4 linked regions of the Homo sapiens genome follow. The protein of the gene in region 4 purifies or fractionates together with the protein of the main gene of each other region. This does not show direct contact. Each region holds a gene or a part of one and is shown on either strand. Other genes may lie near its edges.

Region 1 (4,150 bases), on a different chromosome or scaffold from region 4:
TACTCATATATTAGCTGTAGGCATGACCGTGCTGCTGCACCATCGAGAGACACACACACACATAATAAAAAACCAAATATATTTGGGATAGAAATATCATATTACATTATATAATGCATTATACTTTACAAAACATTTTCCTATTCATTAACTGATTTGCAAATAATATTTAATTTTGTGCTGCTTTTCAAAAGATCTGGAAGTGCTTTCCAAAAAGCACTCCATTCATTGCTTCATAGGCTTCATTCAGTGGTCTGTTGGTTTTTTCTTTTTTTTTTTTTTTCCCTCCCAGCAAGGTTAGTTCCATTATTCCCTCTCCTTCCCTATTCAAGCAATATTAAAGGCTTCTCTTTTTCTACCAGGGTGTTAAGTTGAGCCTCTTGGCTGTGAATATTGGCAGAATGGTAGGACGCAGAAGCTGTGATTTCTCGAGTTAAATAATGACATCGTGCCTGGAGGTCAGTTCAAAGACCACGTCGTTTTGGCACGATATTTATCTGTGACCTCATTTTCTTCTTAATCTATAAAACAGAGGCGTTAATGACAATTTACTTCATAAATCGATTATCAGAATAGGACTTAAAATTCCTTAGGAGGTCAAGCACGGGCTTTAGAAAGTGCAACATGTGAACATCAGCCTATTAAAAATTGTTTTGATCTAGAAAAGACAACCTCAAACTTCTCTTGCCAATTCAAATTCCAGCTTCTTCCTACCCTTCTTTTCTAAATCTTTGCTTTCTCTTTGGCTGAAATTAGAAGCAGGAAGGGAGCAGGGAAAGGAAACCTGGGACTGGAAAAGGGCAGGGAAGCCCAACAGACCGGTTAAGCACGTCTGAGATTCTCTAGTCGGCTTCAACCCAGGGGCTAAGAGGCAGAGTCAGCGTTTCCAGCAGAAACTAGCATATAGCTCAGGCTCAATACCACGTCGAGTCAGGAGCCATCGCCGGAAGGGTCACACCGACACATTTTACAAAACAGCCTAAGGCGTCCCCTCCTCCCGCCTGGGTCAGGGAGGGACACCCCCAGGGGTCCTCGCCCGCCTCCCACTAGCGGGCACGCGGTCGTCGCGCGGGCGCGGCCCTCTGACGGAGCCCAGGCGTGCACTCCGCAGCCTCGGCGTCCCCCAGCTAGCCGGAAGAAGCTGCGGCGACAGCGTCCTGCCGCCTGTCTGTCACGCAGCCGCCCACGTTGCCACCGCTTCCGATTGGTCGCTGGCCTGGACCGGCCCCCTTCAGCCCCGCCTCCCGCGAATGGACAGGCGAGGGGCGGGCCCGCCACCGCCCCGCCCCCCGGCGGCCGCGGGCGGGCCCGCCCATCTGTCAGTTACGGGGGCTGCCCGGCGGGCGGGCTGGAGGCGCTCGCAGGCTGCCTAGTCGTTCGCTCGCTCTCTCTCGCGTGCTCCCTCTCGCCGCCTGTGGGGAAGTCGGGGCCGCCCGAGCGGCCGTCGCCACCGCCTCGCCCCGACCTCCTTCCCGGTCCCCTCCCGGCCCAGTCCCTCCCGCCCGCGCACCCCGAGTAGTGAGTGGCCCCGCGCAGGGTCTGGAGAGTCACCGCGGCGGCGCCGGGTGGTGGTTAAACCATGTTAAGGAGGATTTTACAGAGGGTAAGAGAGTGAAACCGTCTTTCTGGCAGCACGTGAGCGGGACAGCCGGAGCTCGGGGCCGCGGCGCGGGCGCCCCTCCTCAGCGCGGGCTCCTTCCTTCCCTAGGCCCCACAGCCCGGCAGGCGCTTAGGCCTCGGTCGCCCGGCCCGGGGGCGGGGAGGGCGGGTGGGGCCGGCGCGGCGGGGCGGCAGGCAGAGCCCTGGTGGCCCCGCGCGTCCAGGCCTGGCGCCCGCTCCGGCGCGGGGCTCCGTGTGTGCGAGCGGGCTGCGAGCTGGAGGGTGTGGTGCCGGCGCGTTCCTCCCGGGAACCCTGAGTGGGAGTGAAAATGGAGAGTTGGTGCCCGTGGGACGGGCCAGCCGCCGCCTGCCGGGCTGGAGAACGCCCCATGGGAGATTCGGGCGGCTTGCTTCGCCTTTCCCCACCCGCCGCACTCCCCGTGCCCCCCAATTTGACACGATGCGCACCTGCCACACACGGCCCTGCTTTCTCCTTTGGACCACAGTGGAGGGTGGTGTGGTGAGCCCCGGCCTAGCCTGGGCCCAGGCGTGGGACTGACACTGGCACAGTCAGCCGAGAAGGAAGATGTTACTCACTGTTGGAAACTTTTTTTTTAATTAAAAATATGTTTTCTGTGCAAGCCCCACTACCTTATTTTAGCTATCCAAGAATAAATCCGCAGTAAGCTTGATCAAGTGGTATATACACTTAGTTTCTGCCTGTGCTGTCTCTGAAATCTGGAAAACCTTGAGGATAGAAAGATTAGAGCATTAGAAAACTGTAGGTGTATCATTTAAGAATCAGTTACTAGAATAACATAATTCACATCTCTTTTCCTGTAAGAGTTATTGTACCTGTCAACTTAAATTTGTTTTTTTTTTTTGGTATAGCTTTTTTCTTTTCTTTTTGAGGCTGATAGGGTGTAACAAAATGTAAATGATTGAAAAGTAGGTGCCGAGCCTATTAGTTCTTTACCGAGGGAGTAGGATAACTAGTTCAAAGGACAAAAGAAATTAGTGAATTTGTAGGATTCAGCCGAGGAATGTGCGGAAGAGAGTTGAGTCATCCAGTAGATAGGAAGGGAGTGCTCTTGCTTCTGCCTAGCTTTCTCCTGAAAGAATGAAGTCATGTGAAACTTGGTCAGTTATTAGAGGGAGAAATAGTTAACTTCTTTATCTGACAACCTGTGTTGACATTTAATTGTATTTTGCAGTGTTTTGTGAATTTTGAAATCCCGGTAAGCGATGATTTTGGCAGTAACAAGGGCATGTCCTTTACTTTCCCCATCACTTCCTTAGTTCAGCAGTAAAGACATCTGTGCATGATTTACTTTCAGGCTTTAGGAGATTTTTCTTTTATCAGACCTGGAGGAACTGATTACCTCATGTTTCAGATTGTGTTTCTGTCATAGTTCTGCAAGTGAAAATTAGTTTGCCTGTGGTTTGCTTTGAAGTTTACAAATAAAAGTGTTTACTGGTTTAAGGGTAGCTCAGCTGTAGTTATAGATTGGTTTTCAGAAATATGGGATGCTTTCTAGTAATCTTGGTTTAAAGTTAAACATCGAGATTATATGAAGATCATTTTTAATGTTGGTGCATACCTATCAACTGTTAAAGAAGCTTCTGTTGAAACTACAAAAGTGAAATTGATTGTGGTTATTGCAGAGATGTGATATTGAATCATCACTTCTGAATAAGTCAGTTGACAACTGAGTTTCTTAACGTCGGCGCTATTGGCATTTGTGACTGGATAATTCTGCGTTGTGGGAGGCTGCCCTGTGCCTTGTAAGATGTTAGCAGCATCCCTGGCATCTACCCCCACTAGATGCCAGTAGCATTCCCCTATATCCCTTCCCCCTTGTGACAACCAAAAATAGCTCCAGATTTTACCAAATGTCCCCTAGGGGCAAAATTGCCTCTGGTTGAGAATCACTGTGTTAAATGCATTAACTCTTTAGTAGGAAAGTTTGAAGTGTTTCTCACAGTTAAGTACTTAATTTTCTTTTATTCAGTGTATTTATATTGAGTTTCAGTAAATGCCAGGCTTCATGCTAAGGGGTAGGAAACAGTTGATTAAGCTGTGGGTCCTCCCTTTAGAACTCACAGGCTGTTTGGGAGGTGAACATTTAAAAGTAATGACAGTGCTATGTAATAGAATAATGAAGAGGACAGAGGACCCAGGAGGCACTCTGTGGGAGGTGAGGGCAATTAGGAAAAGCTTCAGGGACGGGGGCATATTCACAGCTCAGAAGAGGGAAGGGCATGTCAGGCAGAGGGAACAGCAAATGCAAAGAGATGGAGTCATAAAAGGCGCAGGTAGTACTGTGAGGAGTGTGAACAATGAAGCTTAGGAAGTGAGATGGTCTGTAGCAATTAGTAAGAGATGAAGCTACCGTGGTGGCTAGAGACCAAATTGTGAGAGGACGTAAGAGTCCCTTTGAAGGAGTTCAGCTTTTATCTTGTAGTTGGGTCAGTGTTAATGCTGAGTATTTAATAGGGACATTTTGATAAATGTCTTAAATCTGGTGATTTACTAGTTTAGAAGGTAGAA
Region 2 (3,500 bases), on a different chromosome or scaffold from region 4:
CATCCCCAAATGGATATCTGTAATGAAAGAATACAAAGGTGAAATTTTATTTAAAAATTTTTTAAAAGAATTTGGTTTTGGATTAAAAGGCATGCAAGCAGCATTAATTCCACTCACAGTTACAGTCTATCACCTGGGGCATTCACTACTTTTCAGAGTCAGATCACAGTTCAAAAGACAGCTCTCACCTTGGGGGCATATTCCCCAAGTCAGTGTGAACATGTCTTGTCCCAAGAGGACACTTTATACGCATGGATGTTCACAAATTTATTCTAAACTGCAGGTGTCTGTCAGGATTCATTTGTTAAACATGTCCTCTGTGTTAAAAATCCTAAAATCCTTTTGCATTTCTTAGAAAAAATCACGTTTCTGATGAAATTCTAAAGATGTTTGCAATATTAAACTAGAATATATTAACATGTATAATTTTGAGACAAGGTCTTGCTCTGTCACCCAGGCTGGAGTACAGTGGCTCGATCATAACTCACTGCCACCTCACGATCCTCTTGCCTCAGCCCTCCAAGTAGCTGGGACTACAGGCGTGTACCACCATGCCTGGCTAGTTTTATTTTTAGTACATAGCCTTGAACAACTGAGCTTAAGCGATCATCCTCCCTCAACCTTCCAAAGTGCTAGGACTGTAGGCATGAGCCACTGCACCTGGCCTAAAATTACATTGTTACAGGCACGTAAGTAACACTTCCTGGATCCAAAAATGTGTATTCTGCATTTCAACAACTGAACTTAAGCGATCATCCTCCCTCAACCTTCCAAAGTGCTAGGACTGTAGGCATGAGCCACTGCACCTGGCCTAAAATTACATTGTTACAGGCACGTAAGTAACACTTCCTGGATCCAAAAATGTGTATTCTGCATTTCAACAACTGAACTTAAGCGATCATCCTCCCTCAACCTTCCAAAGTGCTAGGACTGTAGGCATGAGCCACTGCACCTGGCCTAAAATTACATTGTTACAGGCACGTAAGTAACACTTCCTGGATCCAAAAATGTGTATTCTGCATTTCATATTAAAATAAAAAAGCAAGTGCTTGGGATACAAATATCTGCATGAAAATTTAAAGACTTTATTCCTGACTGGTATCACTTTTAGTAAGCAGTTGAACATAACTTGTAGTGTGAATATGGTTAAAACAAAGGACACCTGATGTCTGTGAAGTCTGCTAAGGACAGGTACAAAATTTATGCATTGCTTTTTAAAAAGTTTAAAATGAGGAATGCTTTTGATAATCAGAAAGACTAATGTAAAGTGCTGACTGATGTCCTGTCTGCAGTTAAGGAAGACACCCAACTCTCTTCTTCCTCATCATGGTATTCTCTATGTATAGATCTCTAAAAATGCAAACTTCCTATGGACAAGACAATATGATTTGCTATAATATGAATTAAGATATGGTAATATCTAATAGTCTCCACTGCTAGGATTCTGAGTAACACAAAAAATAGGTTTTATAAAAAGCCCATGCACTTCAATTGGTGGGGGAAAAGAATAAAGTCATTTTCAGTCGACTGACTCTGTAAAACAGATTACCAATATAACAAGCTATGTTATCTAAATTGCCCTGGCAGTCTTCAGTTTTCTCTAAGTAAACAAAGTAAAAGGAACAATAAGGATGCAGGCGTAGTAATAGCTGTGGAAAAGATGAAACTACAGCCACAGTGACCTGTGGGCAGCCTGCGTAGAGATAAGCTGAGGTGTCAGTCAGACTGATCCTGGTAACGATACTCCATGGCTGCATGAAGATGCTGGAGGCATCAAGTGGGTGGCCTTAACTCTAGTGGATTCACTAGGCAATGTAAATTGGTTAGTGGGTTCCCGTAAGTGCCTGTAACAATAAAATTTCTTTTTCAATGTCCCCAATTCAAACTGGCCTCCTTAACTATCCAGAATCAGTGATGCCTGTCATCTGTTCATCTTAAAATAAACACTTCTTACTTTATGGGATGTAAATATCAAAGAGAAGATGAAATGAAAAGCTTTTACATATATAACGTGTTTGTTAATTCTAATTGTCAGTAAAAATGTGAATGTTGAAGTTGAAATGTGAATGTTGAAGTTGGCACCTTTGTAGTAATCAGAATTCTTGCAGAGAAGAGAAAGAGAGTGAAGAGTATACTTTACAAAGCTCGAAGGAGACTTGAGGCTGTCGTTTGTGCTGGTGTTCCTCTAGCCACAGGGGCTGCTGACCGGATCCTGTCCACGTGGTCCAGCCACACCTCTTGCGGGGCTGTATGTGCTGCCTTGGTCTGGGCTGCCTGCGGCTTCAGACTTGAGCTGGGCCTTTTCCGCTGCGGGTGAACCTTCTGTATTCCCTGATGTGTCTTGGCCAGAGACAGGCTTGGCCGACTGGCTGCTTTCAGTACTGCTTTCTTTCGGTGTGCCTTCCCCCAGGATTCCACCTGTCTCCTTGGGCTTTGTATCCAAAACAGGTGATTTATGCTATAAAGTACAAAATTACATTTTAACTGTTTAATGTAATGTGAAGTCTTAGTAATCAAACATATCTAAAAAGTTCCCACCCAAATCCGTTGTAGCAAGCTCCAAACTCTTTCAAATCCAGGGTCCAGTGCTGGGTTATAATTATATAAATGTTATTATACCTCACCAAACTCCACAGTACTCCCACAGAGGAGTGGGAACGCTTAGCGCATATACTGGGTGGTCTAGTGGCCCAGCTTAGAAGGGGTCAAGAGAATTGGTCATCAGTATTGTCAACTTCTCTTGCCTGGTGAGAATAATTCATTTGACAAATATTTCTTGAGCATATATTAAGTTCTAGGTGTTAGGGATACAGCAGGAACAAAATACATAAAACTGTTCTCACTGGAACTTATATTTAGGTTAGAAGAAAATCACACAAGTGTGATATGTTGAATTAAAGAGGCTATGTAAAAAAAGCAGAGAAGAGATGAGTGCTGAATGTGGGTGGGCTGGCAGGGTCAAATTACAGTTTAAATTAGGGTGGTCTGAAAAAGTGATATGGTTAGGCATGGTGGCTCACACCTGTAATCCCATAACTTTGGGAGGCCAAGGTGAGAAGACTGCTTGAGGCCAGGAGTTTGAGACCAGCCTGGGTAACAGCAAGACCCCATATCCACAAAAAATAAAAAATATTAGCCAGGCATGGTCGTATATGCCTATAGTCCTAGTTACTCAGAAGGCTGAGGCAAAAGAATCGGTTGAGCCCAGGATTTTGAGGCTGCAATGAGCTATGATCACTGCACCCCAGCCTTGACCACAGAGTGAGACCTTGTCTCCAAAAATAATAAAAATGAGTAAAGGCCTGAAGAAAGTAACCATATGATTGATATATAAATGAAGACTGTAGAATGAACAGCAGGTACAAAGGCTCTCAAGTTCAAGGAACAGTCAGGAGCCCTTATGGCTAAAGTAGAGTAAGCACGGAGGGAGAAGAGGTGACCAGAGAGGTAGTGGATGTGGGGGAAGGGGAGACCAAGGAGGCTTCCAGGCCATTGTAATA
Region 3 (3,500 bases), on a different chromosome or scaffold from region 4:
CCTACCCAGGCCAACTTTGGATCCACCGGTGGAGTGCCCCGTTCCCGTAACATAGCAGGTGCATGACGGTCAAATGGCTCTGAGCTTGAGCCCCCACTGTCTGAACGCTCTCGGGGAACTAGGCCTGAAGAAACCAAAGAAAAAGAAAAATAATCCTATTCATGTCACAAGCCCTCCAGCCCAAAAAGCATCTCCCCTCGCGGTCAAGTCAGCTCTTCCATCTCTTGTTCCCAGTAGGTCCGGGCCTTGCCTGCTCTTATATAACAAGGTTATCCACTCAGATTCCCTACAAGAGAATCAACCCACCCCAAATAAATCCTGGCAAATGAAGGACCACTGCTTCTTTCATTCATTCATTCATTTTTGAGATGGAGTTGTGCTATTCATTCATTCATTTTTGAGACGGAGTTTCGCTCGTTGCCTAAGCTGGAGTGCGATGGCACAATCTCGGCTCACTACAACCTCCACCTCCTGGGTTCAAGCGTTTCTCCTGCCTCAGTCTCCCGAGTAGCTGGGACTACAGGCGAGCGCCACCACGCCGGCTACTTTTTTGTATTTTTAGTAGAAATGGGGTTTTACCACGTTAGCCATGGTGGTCTCGAACTCCTGAACTCAGTTGATCTGCCCACCTCGGCCTCCCTAAGTGCTGGGATTACAGGCGTGAGCCACAATGCCTGGCCAACCACTGCTTATTTCTTAACTAAGCCCATTTTTGCAACAGAGCTATCTCAGCAGTGCCAAGCATATGCCCTTCCCTCATCACTATGATGGGCAAAACCTATCGTACCAGAGTCACAGTAAGACCCTAATATCCAATGCCTAAGACTGAGGGGACTTTCCTGTTTCTCACTCCTCCCATGCCCCCTTACCAGAGGGATGCACACCAGGAGGGTAGAAGTCTAGAGGGGGACGACCCTGGAGGAGCCGGGGGTCCACATAAGGAGGAATCATCATCCATCGGGGATCAAAGTTCATTGGGGGCATGGGTGGGGGCCGGCCCAGAGCACCTGGGTACAGGGCCTTGGGGGGCGGGGGTGGAGCCTGTGGAGCTGGCACAGCCCCCAGGGTCACAGGCTGTGGTGGTGATGGGGGCACTGGGGTAGGAGGGGCAGAGCCCTGTTGATGCTGCTGCCACTGGTGCTGCTGCTGCTGCTTCAGGAGCTGCTCCTAGGAAAGGAGGAAAGACAAGATGAGAGAGGCTCAAAGCACACATGGACAAAGGAATCAGCAAAGAAAAAACTTGGACTAGGGGAAATTGGCGTGACAATGGAGACAACTGGACAAAGAAGCAAAGGGACCCAGAAGGTAACTTATGAAGAGAATTAGGGACCGAAGCCAGGAAGAAAAGCAGCCCTTAGAGGGTAAACAACTTGATTTCACCTGCTGCTGCCGCTGGAAACGAGGAGGCAACGACTTCTGATATTTGGGGTAGCCCAAGCCCTGACTAGGGGGCTGGCGGGTGGGACCAATCCCATCACCCTTGGGTTCCACCTTTGGAACTGGGGGTGTGGTAGGAGGAGGAACCTCTTCTGGTGGTTCAGGACCCTCTTTTGAGGGCAGTTGTGGTTCCACTGCATCGGAAAAAACACAACAGAGTGATCTAGTCCAACAATAGACACTCCATGAACACCCCAGGAATCTCACGTCTCATCTCTAGCTCCCTTAAGACTAAAATATTCTATTCAACATCTATTCTATTGAAGCCCCTCCCATTTAAGACCCATTAAAGCACTTCATGGCCTCTCATGAGCCTATGGTGGTGGCATTAACTTTCTATGAAACCATTAGAACAACAGTACTTTCTTCAGTCTTGGCCTATAGGAAATAGTTTTCATTTTTATTTATGTATTTCTTGTGAGACAGGATTTTTTTTTGAGACAGAGTCTTGCTCTGTCACCCAGGCTGGAGTGCAATGGCATGGTCTTGGCTCACAGAAATCTCTGCCTCCCGGGTTAAAGCGATTCTACTACCTCAGCCTCCCAAGCAGCTGGGACTACAAGCACATGCCACCACACTTGGCTAATTTTTGTATTTTTAGTAGAGACGGGTTTCACTATGTTGGCCAGGCTGATCTTGAACTCCTGACCTCATGTTCTGCCCGCCTCGGCCTCCCAGAGTGCTGGGATTACAAGTGTGAGCCACCATGCCTGGCCGACAGGGTCTTGCTTTGTTGCCCAGGCTGGTCTCAAACTCCCTAGGCTCAAGCGATCCTCCACCCCAAGCCTCCCTAAGTGTTGGGATTATAGGCGTGAGCTACAGTACTCTGCCAAGAAATGGTATTAGACTACAACCTAAGATTCCAGACAAAACCTTCCCTCCTTCAGATATACAAATGATAGAACACTATCACTGATAGTCCAATAAACCAAAACAACTGCCTTCTACTTCATTTATCCCCAGCCTTACCACCCTGCACCTTTAAGCACCTTGAAGCAGTGATCTGACATCTGGTAGTACCTATCCCCATCTCCATACCTGGGCTGGCTTCGAAGCTGCCACTGCTGGTGCTACTGGTACTGCCACCACCACTCACCAGAGTGGGAGCCGCAGCCACACCTGGAGTAGGAGTAGATTGGGCAGGAGGGGCCTGTGCTGGCTCTTCAGGTTCTGTCTCTGGTGTTGGGGCTGATGCTGGAGGTGGAGCTGGAGGTGCAGGGAGTTCTTTAGGGACTGCAGGTGGTGGAGCTGGGGTAGAAGGGGCAGCAGGTGGGGCAGCAGGCTCTGCTTTGAGCCGCTTGTCAGGTGCCCCAAACTTTTCATCGAGTCGCTTGAGCTTCTCAGCACAGGCTGCCCGGCGCTCTTCTTGCATGCGCCGCTCCTCTTCTTCTCGCCGTCGCCGGGCCCGCTCCACTGCCAGGGAAATCTCAGATGACGACTGCTTTCGTCGCTGCCGCCATGCCTCATCCTCATCTTCAGGTGCTGGGGGCTTGCAGGGAGGACCCCCACGATCCTGTCAATTGGCAAGACCCAGCAGGGCCAGGGGAATCAGTTACTATGCTTTCTATCATCTCTTTTACAACAAATCAACTGTCGCTACTTGCAGGATGCAACGACCCAGGCTTTGGGGTTGATCTCTCTGGGTGGTGACAAACTCATTATCCTGGTCTTCTTTGAGACCACGTCTTGCTATGTTGCCCAGGCTGGTCTTGAACTTGGGCTCAAGTGATCCTTCTGCTTCAGCCTGCTGAGTAGCTTGGACTACTGATGCATACTAACAGATCCAGCTATCTAGCCACCCTAGTCTTTTTATTTTTCTGTTCCCTCTCTCCTTCCGAAACCCAAACACCCAGGGCTCCTTTTTCTTCTTTCCTCATTAGCATCCCAGTTTCTCACTTCTTACCCAGACTCCCCTATTACCAAAGATATTTAAAAGCTTCCCAGGATGTTCTGCAGCCTGGCACTTCACACAGCCCATTTTTAGCACCCCCCTTCCTCTATATCACAACCGCTTCAATTACTCAGCTGACACCAATTTCCCACAGCTGACCCTCTCAATCCCT
Region 4 (3,500 bases):
CTCAGGTCCTCAAACCTCTTTTACCCATTCCCTGGATAACTCGACCATTTCTTTAACTTCAGTGACCAAATCGCAGCCTTCTATCAAACTGCAGACCCTCACATTCAACCACCATCTCAATCTGGATGTCCCCTAGTGGCTTCACCGTTAGCACATCAAAACTGAACTTGTCATCACCCTGTCCCCACCTACCCCCCACCAAACCCCCTCCATCTCCTGGGTTCCCTATCTCAGGAAACAGTTGTCCAGACGAGGAATCTGATGGCTTCCTTGACTGCTCTCTATCCCTTTTATTCCACACCTAAGTTTTCACTGAACACTGAGACTTCTACCTTCTTAATTTCTTTGGAATCTTTCACTTCTTTATCAGGCTATGAGCCAAGCTGAGGCCACCATCATTTCTGGCCTGGATTGTTACAGCAACCTTTCAACGGTTTCCTGACCAGAGTCATGAACCTCTCAGTCTGTTTTCTTCATTCTCAATGTGTCCCTTCTAATGTTAAGTATGATCATTTCAGTTGCTTGCTGTAAAAGCCTCCTGTGGTTCCTAATGTCCTTGGATAAGGTCCCAACTTTTAGACTGACATCTGAGGTCTTTCATGAGCTAGCTATCACTTATTGTACCTGCCACAGTTCCCTCCTTCAACTTATTTTAGTCATATTAAATGTCTGGCAGATCACTAAATACGTTATCTTCATTCTCACTTCTGGGCATTTTTAAATATTCTTCTTTCTTGCTAGGGGTTTTTCAAACTACCTTGCCTCGATCTGCTAACCCCCACCTTTCAGCTGCCAGTTTAGATGACACTTCTCCAGGAAGCCCATCCTGATCCCAAGAAAGTGGCCTAACTACCACTCTGAGACCCAAATAGGTTACAAACCTCCTATAGTGACTAAGCCAGGAAATAGTCTTCCTGATAACAAAGCCCATTTGCTCTTCTGCAAATCCGTAACAGAGCTCTGTGTCTTAAAGAACCAGGCTGGACAATTCCCTTTTCTGACCCTTTGCTCATAATATGCCCAGTGTTTACCTTTCAATTAGTTCACAAGCATCTTTCTTTGAATATCTCTTTTTTTGGGGATCAAGATGATTTTGAAACCATTGCAGTTTTTCACCTATAAACAACAAGTACCAAGACAGTTTACCCCACAAGTCATCATTTAAGCAAGTAAATATTCATTATCATTTTCAACATTAACGTGTTTAAAACAGAACCAAAATTTATGTCAATGTTAAACATAAAGCCTTGTGTGGGCTCAAAGCTAATTAAACCAGTCTGTCACAAATTAAACTGTCAGATTTTAATTTAGAGAAGAAAGAGGAGTGGGAGGGATGCGCTTCTGTATATATTTCTTATCCAATATGGATGCAAAAAAGGAAAATGATTATTTAGTCGAGCTTGAACTTCTAAGTATTTAAAAGCAAAGGACAGCTTGTCAAAAATAATAAAATGAAAACTCCATTAATGATGAGAATGATATTTGCTGAGTATTTAATAAGCTGTAGGCACTATGTAAATAGCTTTATAATCCCATGAGAATTAGTACTATTATTACCCCCATTTGTAGATGAGAGATGTTAAATGACCTGTCCAGGGCCCCAAAGTTAGCAAATACATTAAGCATATAAGAGCTGCCAGGTACTGTGTAGAGTAATTGATATATATTACCAAAGAGCCAACAAAATTCACCCTTGTGAGTAAACCTGACCGTCAGGGTCACTTTCAGTTAGATTTCTCAAGATTACAGATCAAAAAAAATCACCCGGCCCTGTACAATGAGATCCCATTTAAAAATACTATTCTATTACCTGATGAAGCATTGATGGGAGTTCAAATACCTTTAATTTTAATAAAAGAGCCTAACAGTCAGTATTTAAATCTCAGATTTGTGAGTAAAAAATTATTAGCAATAAATCTGACCAAAAAAACAGTGACATGACACTGAGATACAAACTGAAGATGTGTATGTCCACATCATTAAATAAATATGAATTGTGGTTTCTACCTAGGCCATAATCCTTCATAATTCTAATGGTTAGGGAGGTAGAGTTAAACATCAGATAGATGGACAGATGGATATGAATGTTATGTGTAGACAGGTAGGTAGGTAGATAAATATAAACTAACAGTTTCTGGAAAACTGAGCTAGAAATCATTAACACTGTTTATTCCAAAAGTTTAATGATTGATTTGCTTTGTTTAGATCAAGTCTGATCAAATTCACTTTGATAAAAACAGTATTTCACTAAAAGAGTAAAAAGAAAAACAAGTATAGGGCAGAAATGCCCTATACTCTAGCCAGAGTTTCAAATAAGTAAACCCACTTACCAACAAGGTTGAGACGCAAGGCCTTTTCATTCTTCAATCTTTGAAGGAAAGGTAAATATATGTGTTAGAAAATTTCCAAAGCAAGTTTTAAAACTCTGACAATAACAACGAAAAGAAAAACTGCCTAAAGAACTCTAATTAAAAGGTCATTCTTTTACAAATTTGAGAATAATTTTGTTAACAGAAACATTAAATACTATGCTTCTCTTTTGAATCACTAGAATTTTATCAGAAACTTCCTTTAAGCACCTCAATGTCTAAAGGAAGCCTATAGAACAAACCAGTTTTGAAAACACAACTGAAAGCTTTTCTGAATTGTGAACATTCAGATGGGTTCTGTAATATGCAGAATACTTGAGCACAAGAGTAATGCAAACCTTCTGGAAGACTGAGTACTGCCACCAAGATCAAAATGCACTACTGTCATCTTTTAAATTTCAATAAGAACAAAACAGAATGGTTACTTTCAATGAATTTGAAAAGAATTATAACAAACAAAAATTTCATCTATGCTCAGAAAGTGTATAGGTAACACATGCCTCCTATTACTGATATTCTAAACACTTACTCATTCAGGAGACCTCTGGATACCAAGTCTTTGCCAGACTTTAGTTTCTGATAGCCCCAAAGGATACAGCCATGAACAAAAAAAATTCACTGTCCCTGTCCTGAAAAACCTTAAAATCTAAGGGCAATAAAAACATGGAGAAGCATACAGAGCTATAAAAGCATATTTAAAAAGCACCTACCATATGTTTTAGGATTTGGGAAGGTTTTCCAGAGAAGTAAATTTTAAGCTGAGACCTGAACATACAGAGAAGTTATTCAGGATTAAAAAAAAAAAAAGATAGGGACTACGGGAATGGTAAAAGAAAAATCTTAGCCATAGGAGAAGGCTTTGTATAAAGCAGGAAGTATACATGGCTTTTATCCACAAAGAAGTAAGCAAACCAGATTTATCCTCCCATTTTACACAACTAGAAAACTGGAGAAATAAAATGAAATCTTTTGTTATTATTATCATTATTATCATTAGAGACAGGGCCTCACTGTGTAGCTCGAGCAGGACTGCAGTAGTGCTGTCATTGCTCACCACAGCCTCAAACTCCTGGGCTCAAGCAACCATCCTGCCTCAGCCTCCCATGTAGTTAGGACTACTGTTATATACCA

Evidence for each region.
Region 1: the proteins of TMA16 (region 4) and EEA1 purify together in Homo sapiens (affinity purification with mass spectrometry; one large-scale study listed by BioGRID and IntAct). This does not show direct contact.
Region 2: the proteins of TMA16 (region 4) and CLCC1 purify together in Homo sapiens (affinity purification with mass spectrometry; one large-scale study listed by BioGRID and IntAct). This does not show direct contact.
Region 3: the proteins of TMA16 (region 4) and PRRC2A purify together in Homo sapiens (affinity purification with mass spectrometry; one large-scale study listed by BioGRID and IntAct). This does not show direct contact.

Annotation. Positions count from the first base shown.
Region 1 is NC_000012.12:92,926,496-92,930,645, reverse strand, and holds the start of EEA1 (early endosome antigen 1), read left to right. Parts: upstream 1-1,350; 5' UTR 1,351-1,579; coding exon 1,580-1,603; intron 1,604-4,150. UniProt on the Homo sapiens protein: Binds phospholipid vesicles containing phosphatidylinositol 3-phosphate and participates in endosomal trafficking.
Region 2 is NC_000001.11:108,932,485-108,935,984, forward strand, and holds part of CLCC1 (chloride channel CLIC-like protein 1 isoform 1 precursor), read right to left. Parts: intron 2,459-3,500; coding exon 2,186-2,458; 3' UTR 2,141-2,185; exon of another isoform or gene 2,136-2,140; intron 2,062-2,135; exon of another isoform or gene 18-2,061; 3' UTR 1-17. UniProt on the Homo sapiens protein: Anion-selective channel with Ca(2+)-dependent and voltage-independent gating. Permeable to small monovalent anions with selectivity for bromide > chloride > nitrate > fluoride.
Region 3 is NC_000006.12:31,627,215-31,630,714, reverse strand, and holds part of PRRC2A (protein PRRC2A), read right to left. Parts: intron 2,951-3,500; coding exon 2,476-2,950; intron 1,572-2,475; coding exon 1,381-1,571; intron 1,168-1,380; coding exon 870-1,167; intron 125-869; coding exon 1-124. UniProt on the Homo sapiens protein: May play a role in the regulation of pre-mRNA splicing.
Region 4 is NC_000004.12:163,511,690-163,515,189, reverse strand, and holds part of TMA16 (translation machinery-associated protein 16), read right to left. Parts: intron 2,369-3,500; coding exon 2,331-2,368; intron 1,117-2,330; coding exon 1,032-1,116; intron 1-1,031. UniProt on the Homo sapiens protein: Involved in the biogenesis of the 60S ribosomal subunit in the nucleus.